2 separate regions of the Homo sapiens genome follow, and region 2 is linked to region 1. The links come from fine-mapping of genetic effects on gene expression. A gene starts in region 1. The other region holds a variant in brackets. All regions are shown on one strand. Distances are between the middles of the regions.

Region 1 (8,222 bases):
GGCCTTGTTCCTGGTCACAGAGAACCCTCAGTTTGATCATAACACAAGCCAGGAGTGTAGGGTGCAGCCCTCAACCAGTGACAGCAGGGAACTGGGGGGTACCTGACCCACCCGCTAAGCCAGCTCTGAGGTCTGCCCTGCACAGGCTCCCAGAACTCCTTGGCTGCTCACGCCATGCCCTGCTTAATAACTCCCCTTGCGTTGCTGCCTCTGCTTCCTTGCCTCAGTTTCCCCCTCCTCTCCTGGGGCTCCCGTGGAATCACCTCCCAAATAAAGGACTTGCACCAGAATCCTTGTCTCAGGGCCTGCTGGAGGAACTGAAATAAAAACAACGATCTTCAAATCTGCCTAAGCCTCAATTTCCTTTATCTTCCAAAATAAAAGACAAGTTAAGCATTTTTGTAAAGAACAGGGTCAATAGGTAGAAGAAATGGGAATATAGATTTCAGTCAAAAAAGAATTTGTTTTTTTTCCTTCTGAAATGGAGTCTCGCCCTGTTGCCCAGGCTGGAGTGCAGTGGCGTGATCTCAGCTCACTGCAACCTCTGCCTCCCGGTTCAAGCAATACTCCTGCCTCATCCTCCCAAGTAGCTGGGATTACAGACACGCGACACCATGCTCAGCTAATTTTTGTATTTTTGGTAGAGACGGAGTTTCACCATGTTGGCCAGACTCATCTTGAACTCCTGACCTCAAGGTATCCACCCCCATCAGCCTACCAAAGTGCTGGCATTACAGGGGTGAGCCACCGGGCCCGACCAATAATTCTTTTTTTAAAGAGACAGAGTCTTGCTCGGTCACCTAGGCTGGAGTGCAGTGGCATGATCATAGTTCACTGCAGCCTTGAACTCCTGGGCTCAAGTGACCCTCCTGCCTCGGCCTCCTGAGTAGCTGGGCCTACAGGTGCACATGCCACCATACTCAGTTAATTTTTATTTAATTAAAAAAAATAGGCCGGGTGGGGTGGCTCACACCTGCAATTTCAGCACTTTGGGAGGCTGAGGCGGGCAGATCAGTTGAGGTCAGGAATTCGAGACCAGCCTGGGCAACATAGTGAAACCCTGTCTCTACTAAAAATACAAAAATTACCCGGGCATGGTGGTGCATGCCTGTAATCCTAGCTACTCAGAGGCTGAGGCAGAAGAATCATTCGAACCCAGGAGGTGGAGGCTGCAGTGAGCTAAGATTGTGCCACTGTACTCCAGCCTGGATGACAGAGCAAGACTCTGTCTCAAAAAAACAAACAAACAGCTGGGCATGGCGGTTTATGCCTGTAATCCCAGCACTTTGGGAGGCTGAGGCAGGTGGATCACTTGAGGTCAGGAGTTCGAGACAAGACTGACCAACATGGTGAAACACCATCTCTACTAAAAATACAAAATTAGCCGGGCGTGATGGCGCATGCCTGTAATCCCAGCTACTTGGGAGGCTGAGTCACGAGAATTGCTTGAGCCTGGGAGGCAGAGGTTGCAGTGAGCCGAGATTGTGCCATAGCACTCCAGCGTATGCAACAGGAGCAAAACTCCATCTCAATAAAAACAAAAACAAAAACAAACCACCCTCTCATGATCATCCAGACTGTTGTGCCTGGTTTGAGTGACAGGCAACTCACCATCTATCCTCTTCCCACCTACAACAGCTCTGACTATCACAAACTTCTGTTAAGTTCTTTTAAAAATTTGGCTGAAGCCAGGTGTGGTGGCTCTCCCCTATAATCCCAGTGCTTTGGGAGGCTGGAGTAAGCAGATCGCCTTGAAGCCAGGAGTTTGAGACCAGCCTGGCAACCTTTGGGCTCTACAAATTTCTTTTTTTTTGTGACAGAGTTTTGCTCTTTTTTCTTAGGCTGGAGTGCAATGGCACGATCTTGGCTCACTGCAACCTCTGCCCCCCAGGTTCAAGTGACTCTCCTGCCTCAGCCTCCCAAGTTGCTCGGATTACAAGCATGAGCCACCACAAAATTAGCCCGGCTAATTTTTGTATTTTTAGTAGAGACGGGGTTTCACCATGTTCGCCAGGCTGATCTCAACCTCCTGACCTCAGACGATCCCCCTGCCTCTGCCTTCCAAAGTGCTGGGATTACAGGCGTGAGCCACTGTGACTGGCCCCACACACACACACAAAATAATAATAATAATTGACCAGGTATGGCCAGACGTGGTGGCTCACTGTAATCCCAACATTTTTGAAGGCCAAGGTGAGACAGTCACTTGAGCCAAGAGTTTAAGACCAACCTGGGCCACATAGAGAGACCTCATCTCTATTTTTTTTTCTTTTTTGAGACAGTCTTGGTCTGTCGCCCAGGCTGGAGTGCAATGGCGGGATCTCGGCTCACTGTAACCTCTGCCTCCTGCATTCAAGCGATTCTCCTGCCTCAGCCTCCCTAGTAGCTGGGATTACAGGTGCCCGCCACCGTGCCTGGCTAATTTTTTTATTTCTAGTGGGGACGGGGTTTCACCATGTTGACCAGGCCCTCTCTCTCACTATATATATATATTATTTGTTGTTGTTTGTTTGTTTTGTTTTGTTTTAAGCCTCGGGTGATTGTGATGATCTGTCAGGTTTGGGATCTGTTAGATCTCTCAAATGCCCCCAGCCAGCCCTGGCCCTACAGGTGTGGCCCCAAGAAGATGGGCTGGCACCTGCCTGGACCCTGTTTTTAAATATCCATTGTCGAGGTTGGGCTACTCTATGATCACATCTTGAGACCATCCAGAGCTCCACACAGAGATAAGCAATGCTTAGAAAGGAAACAAAACTTTGCCCAAGAGCCAGAAACCTATCTTCAACAACCAATTGTGCTATAAAGTAACTTAGTTCAGTTCACTGGAATATTACTTAATTTCCTCTGCTTTTTCTTTTTAAACAAGAAAGTGTTGACTCAGCCAACAGCACTGGGAACCAGACTCCCTGGGGCCTGCCTGCCCCTGCTCTTCTCCCAAATTCTCTTCTTTTTTTGTCCCTGTTGATGGAATTCAATAAAGGGATCTCTACCATCTGTCACTTGTTTTTTTTTGTTGTTTGTTTGTTTGTTTTTTTTTTTTTTGGCAGAGTCTCACTCTGTCGCCCAGGCTGCAGTGCAGTGGTGCCATCTCAGCTCACTGCAACCTCCACCTCCCAGGTTCAAGTGATTCTCCTGCCTCACCCTCAGGAGTAGCTGGGATTACAGTTGCCTGCCACCATGCCCGGCCAATTTTTGTGTTTTTAGTAGAGACAGGGTTTCTCCATGTTGGCCAGGCTGATCTTGAACTCCTGACCTCAAGGGATCCGCCCACCTCGGTCTCCCAGAGTGCTGTGATCACAGGCATGAGCCACCACGCCCAGTGCCAGATTATCTTTCTTCACTGTCTAATTTCATTCCTATGAGTATTAGTTTACTTTTCCTTTGTTGGGTCAAAAGTGCTGCTTCTGTTCCCAACCACAGAATTCTCTGGAATTGTTTTCAGGGCCGTCTCAGTCTCATAAAAGGGGATCAGGCAGGAGGAGTTTGGGAGAAACCTGAGAAGGGCCTGATTTGCAGCATCATGATGGGCCTCTCCTTGGCCTCTGCTGTGCTCCTGGCCTCCCTCCTGAGTCTCCACCTTGGAACTGCCACACGTACGTAGCTGGCCCATTCCCCTCCTGGGGTTCCTTCCCGGACCGCCTGGGAGTGGATGGAAATGAGTATCTCCAAACCCTTCCTCTCCCTGATTTTTAGGTGGGAGTGACATATCCAAGACCTGCTGCTTCCAATACAGCCACAAGCCCCTTCCCTGGACCTGGGTGCGAAGCTATGAATTCACCAGTAACAGCTGCTCCCAGCGGGCTGTGATGTGAGTATTTCTCGGACGTACTTTCTGGGGCCCCATCAGTCATGCAACAGGATGGGTGCTGGGCAGACCCCCAGGATGAGCCTTGGGATGGGAACCTGGAAACCCCACCTCTGCACACTAACAAGTGTGACTCTGAGCTTCAGGTAGAACCTGACTTTTTTTTTCTCTTTTTGAGACGGAGTTTCTTTCTTGTTGCCCAGGCTAGAGTGCAATGGCACGATCTTGGCTCACTGCAACCTCCCCCTCCCGGGTTCAAGCAATTTTCCTGCCTCAGCCTCCCAAGTAGCTGGAATTACAGGCACATGCCACCATGCTCAGCTAATTTTTGTGTTATTAGTAGAATTTCACCATGGTTGGCCAGGCTGGTCTTAAACTTCTGAGCTCATGTGATTTGCCCGCCTCAGCCTCCCAAAATGCTGGGATTACAAGTGTGAGTCACTGGACCCAGCCAATCCCCACTTTTAATAAACTCACAGTGAAGTAAGAGCTCAGGAATCATCAGCTATGATGAATAACCTTGAAAATGTGGCTAACAATTAAATGACATGTTGAGTGCAGGGTTCCTTTCTGGGGTGATGAAAATATCCTAAAATTGATTGTGGTGATGGTTGCATAATCTATGACTATACTAAAAACCATTGAATTATAATTATAGCCTTTAAATTGGTGGAGTTGTACATGGTGGGGAGGTTTAGACGATCGCTTGAGCCCAGGAGTTCAAGGCTGCAGTGAGGTATGATCGCACCACTGCACTCCAGCCTGGGTAACACAGAGAGACTTCATCCCTAACAAAAGAGAAAAAAAAGAGTGAATTACAGTTATCCCCCAGTAACCACAGGGGATTGGTGCCAGGATTTTGGCATACAATTTCCCCTGAATTTATGCAGCTTTTGCATCACCGAGTTTTGTATTTTCTATCCTCCTTTGGTTGGCAAAAGGCTGCCTATGAGTGGGCCCACAGAGTTCAAATCCGTGTTGTTCAAGAGTCAACTGTATGTGCCGTGTGAATTATATCCCAACAAAGCTGTTCTATTACAATGAAAGAATCAGCCAGGTGAGGTGGCGCAGGCCTGTAAGCCCAGTTACTCCGGAGGCTGAGGCAGGAGAATCGCTTGAACCCGGGAGGCGGAGTTTGCAGGAGTAGAGATCGCGCCACTGCACTCCAGCCTGGGTGACAAGAGAGAAACTGTTTCAAAAAAAATAAAATAGGCCGGGCGTGGTGGCTCACGCCTGTAATCCCAGCACTTTGGGAGGCTGAGGTGGGCAGATCTCCTGAGGTTGGGAGTTCGAGACCAGCCTGACCAACGTGGAGAAACCCTGTCTCTACTAAAAATACAAAATTAGCTGGACGTGGTGGCGCATGCCTGTAATCCCAGCTACTTGGGAGGCTGAGGCGGAAGAATCACTTGAACCTGGGAGGCAGAGGTTGTGGTGAGCCGAGATCGCGCCATTGCACTCCAGCCTGGGCAACAAGAGTGAAACTCCGTCTCAAAAAAAATAAAAAATAAAACAAAATAAAGGCTAGGCGTGGTGGCTCACACCTGTTATCCCAGCACTTTGGGAGGCCAACACAGGCGGATCACCTGAGGTCAGGAGTTCGAGACCACCCTGGCCAACATGGCAAAACCTTGTCTCTATTAAAAACACAGAAATTCGCTGGGTGTGCTGATGCGTGCCTATAATCCCAGCTACTTGGGAGTCTGAGGCAGGAGCATCACTTGAACCTGGGAAATGGAGGTTGCAATGAGCTGAGATCATGCCATTGCACTCCAATGTGGGCAACAGAGTGAGAGTTCGTCTCAAAAAAAAAAAAAAAAAATTAAGTGTCCTGGTGCAGGTTACATGCTGCAGGCTAGAACTGGTGGAAAACGGTAAATGGTACCTGGTAGAGGTGGGTCTGGAGGCATAGTTTCCAGTGGAAATCAAGATAGGAAAGAGGAGGGAGACAAGGCCCAGGAGAAGAGGGGACAGGGACAGAGAGCAACAAGTTTGTGGCAAGGCCAGAAGACTAGTGAGAGAGCTGCCCCTCCTTCCCTTTCTATCCCACCCCAGGAGGCAAAGAGTCTCAATATTGACTTATCCGTGTCTCTTTTTCACAGATTCACTACCAAAAGAGGCAAGAAAGTCTGTACCCATCCAAGGAAAAAATGGGTGCAAAAATACATTTCTTTACTGAAAACTCCGAAACAATTGTGACTCAGCTGAATTTTCATCCGAGGACGCTTGGACCCCGCTCTTGGCTCTGCAGCCCTCTGGGGAGCCTGCGGAATCTTTTCTGAAGGCTACATGGACCCGCTGGGGAGGAGAGGGTGTTTCCTCCCAGAGTTACTTTAATAAAGGTTGTTCATAGAGTTGACTTGTTCATAACATTTTTTGTCCATAAAACCCGAGTTTTCTTTAAGGAAAGAAAATTGATTCAATATGGATGGCTGGTTGCCTGGGAGGTCCCCAACCCCCGGGCAGACCCCGATACGGAATTCTGCCGTGGGTTTTTGTTTGTTTGTGCAAAAAAAAGCAAGGGTAATTTTAATACACTTTGGTAAAATGCTTGGTGAATTTTTTAACATTATTTAGAGAAAAAAGTTTAGTTTATTTGGAAAAGTAAGTTCTGTGCAACACCTCACAGCCTGTCAGTGCCGTGTAAATGTAGTAGCTCCGTGTTTGGCAGCGCTTTCTCTTAAGAAAGCAAGACACTAATTAGTTAATGTGAATATTATCTACCTACCAAACTGCGGGTGCGTTGTCTATATAGCTTAAATAAGCTTTTTACAAAAATAATCAGCCGGGTGCAGTGGTTCACGGCTGTAATCCCAGCACTCTGGGAGGCTGAGGTGGGAGGATCACTTGAGCCCAGGAGTTTGAGATCAGCCTGGGCAACATAGTGGCACCCATCACTACAAAAAAATTTAACAGTTACTCAGACGTGGTGGTGGGTGCCTGTAGTCACAGCTACTTGGGAGGCTGAGGTGGGAGGATTGCTTGAGTCTAGGAGGTCGAGGATACAGTGAGCCATGATCACACCACTGCACTCCAGTCTGAGCAACAGAGCAAGACCCTGTCTCAAATAATAATAATAATAATAATAAAGACTAACCTGGGCACCACAGTGAAACCCTGTCTCTACAAAAACACAAAAAATTAGCCAGGTGGGGTGGCACACACCTGTGGTCCCAGCTACTCAGGAGGCTGAGGCAGGAGGATTACTTGAGGCCAGGAGTTAGAGGTTGCAATGGGCCAAGATCACACCACTGCACTCCAGCCTGGGTGACAGATCAAGCCCCTGTCTCAAAAATATTTTTTTAATAAAAAATAAAAAGTCCGGGCACAGTGGCTCATGCCTGTAATCCAAACACTTTGGGAGGCCGAGGCAGGTGGATCATGAGGTCAGGAGATTGAGACCATCCTGGCTAACACAGTGAAACCCCATCTCTACTAAAAATACAAAAAATTAGCAGGGCGTGGTGGCGGGTGCCTGTAGTCCCAGCTACTCAGGAGGCTGAGGCAGGAGAATGGTGTGAACCTGGGAGGCGGAGCTTGCAGTGAGCAGAGATCGCGCCACTGCACTCCAGCCTGGGCGACAGAGCGAGACTCCATCTCAAAATAAATAAATAAATAAATAAATAAATAAATAAATAAAATAATAATTATTATTATTTTTGCCATTTCTTGCAACTTTTTGTGAATCTATAATTATTGTTTATAGTTATTAATTATTAATATCTATAATTGTTATAGATTTACAAGAAGTTGCAAAAATGGTATGGGGAGGTCAGGTGTATCTTTTTTATTATTGAGACAGAGTCTTGCTCTGTCACCCAGACTGGAGTGCAGTGGCATAATTACAGCTCCCTATAGCCTCTACCTCCCTGAGTTCAGGTGACCCTCCCACCTCAGCCTCCCAAGTAGGTAGGACTACAGGCATGGTCCACCACACCCGGCTAACTTTTGTATTTTGGCAGAGACAGGGTTTCACCATGTTGCCCAGGCTGGTCTCAAATTCTTGGGCTCAAACCATCTGCCCACCTCAGCCTCCCAAAGCACTGGGATTACAGGTGTGAGCCACCGTGCCCAGCCCCCAAATCTATCTTTTATTTAGTTTACCCCAATGGCTACAGCTTACATAATTATAATGCAATATCAAACCCAGGAAATTGACATTGGTATAAAGCGTGTGCATAGTTCTGTCATACTGTCGTTTTATCACGTGTATAGATTTACATTATAGCAACTGAGATCCCGATCTATTCCAACGTCACGGAGATCTCCCTCCATTCACCCCTTGACAATCACACCTCCCATCCACCACCATCTTTAGCTCCTGGCAACCATCATCCTACTCTTTGGTATTATGAATTTGACTTTTTAGATGCTATGTAGGTAGTAAGTGAGATCAGGCAGTATTTGTCTTTCTGCG
Region 2 (8,396 bases), 22 kb before region 1:
GGCACGTACCTGTATTCTCAGCCTCTTAGGAGGCTGAGGCAGGAAGATTGCCTGAGCCCAGGAGTTGGAGGCTGCAGTGAGCCATGACCGTGCCATTGAACTCCAGCCTGGCAACAAAGCAAGACTCTGGCTGGGCATGGTGGCTCTTGACTGTAATCCCAGCACTTTGGGAGGCCGAGGCGGGCGGATCAGTTGAGGCCAGGAGTTTGAGACCAGCCTGGCAAACATGGCAAAACTCTGTCTCTACTAAAAATGCAAAAAATTGCCACATGTGGTGGCATATTCCTGTAGTCCCAGCTACTCGGGAGGCTGAGGCAAGAGAACTGTCTGAACCTTGGAGGCGGAGGTTCCAGTGAGCTGAGATGGTGCCACTGCACTCCAGCCTGGGCGACAGTGTGAGACTCTGTCTCAGAAAAATCAAACAAAAAAAAAGCGAGCCTATCTCTAAGAAAACAAAAGAACTTATGGAAGTTTCCTTCTTCTTTTTTTTTTTTTTTTGAGATGGAGTCTCGCTCTGTCGCCTAGGCTGGAGTGCAGTGGTGGTGAACTCAGCTCACTGCAACCTCTGCCTCCCAGGTTCAAGCGATTCTCCTGCCTCAGCCTCCTGAGTAGCTGGGACTACAGGCGCCCACCACCATGCCTGGCTAATTTTTTTTGTATTTTTAGTAGAGACGGGGTTTCACCGTGTTAGCCAGGATGGTCTCGATCTCCTGACCTTGTGATCTGCCCGCCTTGGCCTCCCAAAGTGCTGGGATTACAGGTGTGAGCCACCGCGCCTGGACTGTTTTGTTTTGTTTTGTTTTTGAGACCAAGTCTCCCTCTGTTGCCCAGACTGGAGCGCAGTGGCACGATCTCGGCTCACTGCAACCTCTGCCTCCTGGGTTCAAGCAATTCCCGTGCCTCAGCCTTCCCAGTAGCTGGGATTACAGGCACATGCCACCATGCCCAGCGGATTTTTTAGTAGAGATGGGTTTTCACCGTGTTGCCCAGGCTGGTCTCAAACTCTTGAGCTTGGGCTATCCACCCAACTGGGCCTCCCAAAGTGCTAGAAATACGGGCGCGCCCGGCCAGAAGTTTCCTTCTTAGAAAGCTGTACGTGGCCCTGTGTGATGGCTCGTGCCTGGTATCCTAGCACTTTGGGAGGACAAGGTGGGAAGATGCTTTGAGCCCAGGAGTTTGAGACCAGCCTGGGCAACACAGGGAGACCCCCATGTCTAGAAAATTAAAAATAAAAAAAAAAATTATCAGGACATAGTGATGTGTGCCTGTGGTCCCAGCTACTTAGGAGGTTGAGGCAGGAGGATCGCTAGAGTTCAGGAGTTGGAGGCTGCAGCGAGCTGTGATTGCATCACTGTACTCCAACCTGGACAACAGATCAAGACCGTGTCTCATCAAAAGAAAGGTGGTCATTTGGGTCTTCCAGTCGCTTATTCTGCCTGAGATACAGGCAAGATTTAGAGGAAATTATTCTGTTACTGACCGTAGCTGAGTAGGGGAGACTAATACTCCCCGAATGCTCAGTGTAAGCAGGCCAGCAAGAGGACCCCAGACCCCTCCTCCCGTGGCTCCTACTAAATCCCACCTTCTGCCTTTTGCCACTAGTTTTTTTTTGAGACGGAGTGTCACTCTGTTGTCCAGGTTGGAGTGCTTTTCAGCCTCTAAAAAGGCATTCCCTGGAAGTCTCTCTCTCCCCAGCCTTCTAACTTCTGAATAATCTCAAGCCCAAAGGAACATTCAGTTCTTGCTATGGGTCATGCCCGGTCACGACCTTGCTTGGGGAAACATCTCTCAAGACTCAGAATGGGGAAGAGCTGCGCTTCTCCCAAGCAACTGGCAGTTCGTTGTTATGTTCTCGAAGCTGGTGGGATGGGCTGCATTTCCCTTTTTTTATTGGCCAATTGAAAGTTTGGAAGGGAATTTGCTGACTTTTGCTAACCCGCAGATGCCTCCCCTTATCTATCTAGCTGCTATTTGCCCTTGGCTCTGATATGGTCCTGTAACTACAGAGTAGTTTTAGCTTCGGGACAAAGCCTGGCGGAAGCCACCCTGAAGGTTCATTCTCAGCGTTAAGGGTTGGGGGGTAGGACTCTGAGACTGTCAGAGGCAGGACAAGGCACAGGCATGACACAGACCCAGCTCTGAGCCTTGGTTCTGCCATCCATGAGTTTTGTGGCCTTGAACAAACCACAGTTTTCTAGGCTGTAAAAGGGGATAAGAAAACCTCCCTAGGCCGGGTGTCATGGCTCATGCCTGTAATCCCAGCACTTTTGGGGGCCGAGGCAGGTGGATCACTTGAGGTCAGGAGTTCGAGACCAGCCTGGGCAATATGGTGAAACCCTGTCTCTACTAAAAGTACAAAACTTAGCCAGGCGTGGTAGTGCATGCCTATAGTCCCAGCTACTTGGGAGGCTGAGGCAGGAGAATCGCTTGAACCGAGGAGCTGGAGGCTGCAGTGAGCCGAGATTGCACCACTGCACTCCAGCCTGGGTGACAGAGGGAGACCCTGTTTCAAAAAAAAAAAAAAGAAAGAGAAAAAAAGAAAGAAGAAGGCAAGAGAGCAAGAAAGAAAGATAGAAAGAAGAAAGCAAGAGATCAAGAAAGAAAGAAAGAAGAAAGCAAGAGATCAAGAAACAAAGATAGAAAAAGAAAGAGAGAAAGAAAGAAAGAAGGAAGGAAGGAAGGAAAGAGAGAGAAAGAAAGAAGGAAAGAAAGAAAGAAAGAGAAATAAAGAAACCACTCTCCTAGAACCGCTTTCAGGGTAAATGGATTAACTGGTAACAAACAAAAAAGTTTGTTTTTCTTCCAACTCCAGGAGATACGGTTTTTTAGTTGTTTGTTTGTTTGAGACAGGGTCTCACTCCGTCACCCAGGCTGGAGTGCAGTGGTGTGATCGTGTCTCACTGCAACTTCAACCTCCTGGCCTCAAGCGATCCTCTCACCTCAGGCTCCCCAAGTAGCTGGGACTACAGACATGTGCCACCATGCCCAGCTGATTTTTAAGATTTTGTAGAGACAGGGTTCCACTATATTGCCCAGGCTAGTGTTGAACTCCTGGGCTCAAGTAATCCTCCTGCCTCAGCCTCCCAAAGTGCTGGGATTACAGGTGTGAGCCACGGCGCCCGGCCGAAACATGTTTTTATTCTCCTGATTCGGCTTGGTCTCTGTTGCACACAAGCCAGGATGCTGCTTCCTCCAGGAAGAGCTTCCCAGGGCTGGGGAACCCCTCCTAACACACTGTGCCTCCTCTGGCTCCCCTCACTAGCTCCCCATGTGTAGGTCTCACTGGGACAGCAGACAAGGGAGTTTCTTTACATCCACTCCTTACTTCTCTCTTTTTTTTTTTCCTTTTTTCTTCTTCTTTTTTTTTTGTTTGAGATAGAGTCTTGCTCTGTTGCCCACGCTGGAGTGCAGTGGTGCGATCTCGGCTCACTGCAACCTCCGCCTCTCAGGTTCAAGCAATTCTCCTGCCTCAGCCTCCCAAGTAGGTGGGATTACAGGCACGTGCCACCACACCTGGCTAATTTTTGTATTTTTAGTA[C/G]AGACAAGTTTCACCATGTTGGCCAGCCTGGTCTCAAACTCCTGACCTCAAGGGATCCACCCACCTCAGCCTCCCAAAGTGCTGGGATTACAGGTGTGAGCCACTGCACGCGGTCTCTCTTTCTCTTTCTCTCCCTTCCTTCCTTCCTTCCTTCCTTTCTCTTTCTCTCTTATTTCTCTCTCTCTCTCTTTTTCTTTCTTTCTTTTTTTTATTGACAGAGTCTCACTATGTCGCCCAGGCTGGAGTGCAGTGGCACAATCTTGGCTCACTGCATTCTCTGCCTGCTGGGTTCAAGAGATTCTCCTGCCTCAGCCTCCCGAGTAGCTGGGATTACAGGTGGGCACCACCACGCCCAGTTAATTTTTTTATTTTTAGTAGAGACAGGGTTTCACCATATTACCCAGGCTGGGCTCGACTCCTGACTTCAAGTGATCTGCCCACCTAGGCCCTCCAAAATGCTGGGATTACAGGTGTTACCCACCTCACCTGGCCCGCTTTCTTTTCTTTCTTTCTTTTTCTTTATTTCTTTCTGTCTTTCTTTTCTTTTCTTTTCTTTTCTTTCTTTCTTTCTTTCTCTCTCTCTCCCTCCCTCCCTTCCTCCCTTCCTTCCTTTCTTCTTCCTTTCTTCCTTCCCCTTCCTTCCTCCCCTTCCCCTTCCCCTCCCTCTCTCCCTCTCTCTCTCTCTCTCTCTTTCTTTCTCTCTTTGTTCTTTCTCCACTTATGCTCAAATTCTATACTCACCTTTCTTAAGGACAGGGATGGTGTCCTGTCCACCACGGTGTCTCCAGAGCCTTGGACATTGCTGGGGCTGTAAGAATTCAGCAAACATTTGGCTGGATGCAGTGACTTATGCCTGTAATCCCAGCACTGTGGGAGGCTGAGGTGGCCAGCTCACTTGAGGTCAGCAGTTTGACACCAGTCTGGTCAACATGGTGAAACCATATCTCTACTAAAAATACAAAAATTAGCTGGATGTGGTGGTGCGCACCTATAGTCCCAGCTACTCGGGAGGCTGAGGCAGGAGAATTGCTTGAACCCAGGAGGTGGAGGTTGCAGTGAGCCGACCTGCACTCCAACCTGACAGAGCGAGACTCCATCTCAAAAAAAAGAAAAAAAGAACGAGCAAACATTTGCCACATAAATACATTCCAGAACCCTGTGCTGAAGGGTTATGGAGACAAAAGGAGGCTTCATGCTGGGCCTCCACATCCCTCTGTCCCTCTCTAGTATTGTGTCCTTACAGCAGCCAGACTCATCTTTATCAATGAGTCCTCTCATCGTGTGACTCCCCTGCTTAAAACTCCTTACTGTTGGCCGGGCCCGGTGGCCCATGCCTGTAATTCCAGCACTTTGGGAGGCCAAGGCAGGCAGATCACTTGAAGTCAGGAGTTCCAGACCAGCCTGGCCAACATGGTGAAACCCCATCTCTACTAAAAATACAAAAATTAGCCGGGCATGGTGGTGGGCACCTATAGTCCCAGCTACTTGGGAGGCTGAGACAGGAGAATTGCTTAAAGCCGGGAGGCAGAGGTTGCAGTGATCCAAGATCGCACCATTGCACTCTAGCCTGGGTGACAGAGCAAGACTCCATCTAAAAAAAAAAAAAACAAAAAACAAAACAAAACCTCTTTACTCTCTCCCTGTTACACTTATTTATTTATTTATTTATTTATTTATTTATTTATTTATTTATTTATTTGAGATAGGGGTCTTGCTCTGTTGCTCAGGCTGGAGTGCAGTGGTGTGACCACAGCTCACTGCAGCCTTGAACTCCTGGGCTCCAGCAATCCTCCTGCCTCGGCCTCCCAAGTAGCTGGCACTACAGGCATGTGCCACCACGCCCGGCTAATTTTTGTATTTTATGTAGAGATAGGGTCTCACTACATTGCCCAGACTGATTTCAAACTCCTGGGCTCAAGGGAGCCTCCCGCTTGAGCCTCTTGAGTAGCTGGGACTACAGGCGTGCGCCACTATGTCTGGCTAATTTTTATTTTTTATAGAGATGGGATCTCACTATGTTGACCAGGCTGGTCTTGAACTTCTGGGCTGAAGCAATCCTCCCACCTGGGAGTGCTGGGATTACAGGCATGAGTCACCCATGCCTGGTGGCTTCTTTTCTTATAAGGACACCTGTCATATTGGATCAGAGTCCCATCCTTATGACCTCATTAAAACTTACAGCCAGGCATGGCGGCTCACGCCTGTAATCCCAGCACTTTGGGAGGCCGAAGTGGGTGGATCACCTGAGGTCAGGAGTTTGAGACCAGCCTGGCCAACGCGGTGAAACCCCATCTCTGCTAAAAATACAGAAAGTATCTGGGTGTGGTGGCGCATGCCTGTAGTCCCAGCTACTCGGGAGACTGAGGTAAGAGGATTGCTTGAGCCAGAGGAGGCAGAGGCTGCAGTGAGCTGAAATCGTGGGTAACATGCCTGGGTAACACAGCAAGACTCTGTCTCTAAATAAATAAATAAAAATAAAAACAAAGTAGCCAGGTGTGGTGGTGCATGCCTGTGGTCCCAGCTGCTTGGGAGGGTGAGGTGGGAGAATCACTTGAGCTTGGGGAGGTGGAGGCTGCCGTGAGCTGTGATCACACCTCTGCACTCCAGCGTCGGTGACAGAGTGAGACCCTGTCTCAAAACAAAAAAAGGATGGAAAAAAAACCTTACTTACTTGTTGAACTTCTGGGCTGAAGCAATCCTCCCGCCTGGGAGTGCTGGGATTACAGGCATGAGTCACCCAGGCCTGGCTTCTTTTCTTATAAGGACATCTGTCATGTTGGATCAGAGTCCCATCCTTATGACCTCATTAAAACTTACAGCCTGGCACAGCAGCTCACGCCTGTAATCCCAGCACTTTGAGAGGCCGAGAAGTGGGAAGCCCAGATGGCAGCCTAGACCCTGGGAACCACAGCAGATGGGGGCTCCTGGGAGATCCACACAGAGGAATCTGGAGCCCAGGAAGCAACCTGGAGGGTACAGGGAAGGGGCTTCAGCCACAGGGAAGGGCCTGGAGGGAAGAGAGCAGGAGCCAGGGCCGCCAGCTATGGGCTGACATCAAGGGCATACTCAAGGTCCTGACTGAGGGGGCCTCGGACACAAGTACCAAGAGGGAGTTTCAGCCAGGCGTGGTGGCTCACACCTGTAATCCCAGCCCTTTGGGAGCTGAGGCGGGTGGATCACGAGGCCAGGAGTTTGAGACCAGCCTGGCCAACATGACAAAACCTTGTCTCTACTAAAAATACAAAAATTAGCCAGGTGTGGTGGCGGGTGCCTGTAATCCCAGCTACTCGGGAGGCTGAGGCAGGAGAATTGCTTGAACCCGGGAGGCAGAAGTTGCAGTGAGCCGAGATCGTGCCATTGCACTCCAGCCTGCGTGACAAGAGCAAGACTCTGTCTCAAAAAGAAAAAAAGAAAAAAAAAAAAAAAAGGAGGAGTTTCAGCAGAAGCCATTTATAGACAGACATGCCTCTTGGGTGAAGGGACTCAAATTTTTTTTTTTTTGAAATGGAGTCTCTATCGCCCAGGCCGGAGTGCAGTGGCGTAATCTTGGCTCACTGCAAACTCCACCTTCCAAACTCAAGCTATTCTCCTGCCTCAGCCTCCCGAGTAGCTGAGACTACAGGCACTCACTATCACACCTGGCTAATTTTTGTATTTTTAATAGAGACGGGATTTCACCACATTGGCCAGGTTGGTCTTGAACTCCTGACCTCCAGTGATCTGCCTGCCTCGGCCTCCCACAGTGCTGGGATTACTGGTGTGAGCCACCATGTCCAGCCTCAAATGTTTTATAAACAGGGTATAATCACTTACCCATACAGGAGGAAAGCTGATAAATAAAACTATATTAAAATCCATTAGAAGACATCCATAAGAGGCCAGGCACAGCAGCTCCTGCCTGTAATCCTAGCACTTTGGGAGGCTGAGGTGGGAGGATCACTTAAGTCCAGGAGATTGAGGCCAGGAATTCAAGACCAGCCTGGGCAACACAGCAAGACCCCATCTCTACAATTTTTTTTTTAAGTTAGCAGAACATGGTGGTGCATGCCTGTAGTTCCAGCTACTCAGAAGGCTGAGGTGGGAGGACTGCTTGAGCCCAGGATCTTGAGGTTGCAGGGAGCTATGATTGCACCACTGCAAAGAAAAGAAAAAGAAAAGAAAGAGAGAGAAAGAGGTATGGAGGGAGGGAGGGAGGGAGGATGGAAGGAAGGAAGGAAGGAAGAAAGAAAGAAAGAAAGAAAGAAAGAAAGAAAGAAAGAAAGGAAGGAAGGAAGGAAGGAAGGGAGAGAGACAGAAAGAGAGAGAGAGAAAGAAAGAAAGAAAAAGAAAGAGAAAAGGAGGGAGAGAGCTGGGGAAGAAGGAAGAAAAGAAGGGAAAGAAAGAAAGAGAGGTAGGGAGGAATGGAGGGAAGGAAGGAAGGAAGGGAGGGAGGGAGGGAGGGAGAACCGTAAGACGTAGAAAGGCAATCTGTGGGATGGGAGATTATTTCTGCAATACATCTGTACTGGGTTGAATAATATACCCCAAGAATTCATTGTCCACCCAGAACCTCAGAAATGTGAGTTATTTGGGAATGGCTGTTTGTAAATGTCCTTACGTAAGCCAAGAGGAGGTCTTGACTTGGGGTCCCAGGGGTACCGCAGATCCCAGGGACTGGAGCAGCACTAGCAAGCTCTGGAGGATGAGCCAGGAGTCTGGAATTGAGGCTGAGCCAAAGACCCCAGGTAAGGGTCAGGGACTTTGTTTCTGGGAACCTGCCAGGTTGGGGTTTGGAAGGAAGTAATGGGCCTTGTTTGGTGGTGGGGAGGGGGGCAAAGTGTGGGGGTTTCTCATTGCAGAAGAGAATTTTCAGAGGATA

Evidence for each region. PIP is the estimated chance that this variant, and not a neighbour inherited with it, causes the effect. A credible set is the group of variants that fine-mapping cannot tell apart.
Region 2: its variant is the best candidate, but not a certain one, in a credible set for the expression of CCL26 in tibial nerve (GTEx, PIP 0.85).

What each region holds. Positions count from the first base shown.
Region 1 is chr7:75,767,475-75,775,696 of GRCh38, reverse strand. It overlaps CCL26 (C-C motif chemokine ligand 26), which reads left to right and starts at 3,486. Exons shown (of 3, transcript NM_001371938.1): 1 at 3,486-3,593; 2 at 3,694-3,808; 3 at 5,908-6,159. The coding sequence starts at 3,521. The coding sequence ends at 6,004. RefSeq lists a silencer at 2,672-2,966.
Region 2 is chr7:75,789,583-75,797,978 of GRCh38, reverse strand. It overlaps a transcript of CCL26 not described here. Among named protein-coding and RNA genes, the nearest start is that of CCL24, 20 kb to the left of the region's middle. The variant C/G (reference allele first, on the strand shown) is at 3,539.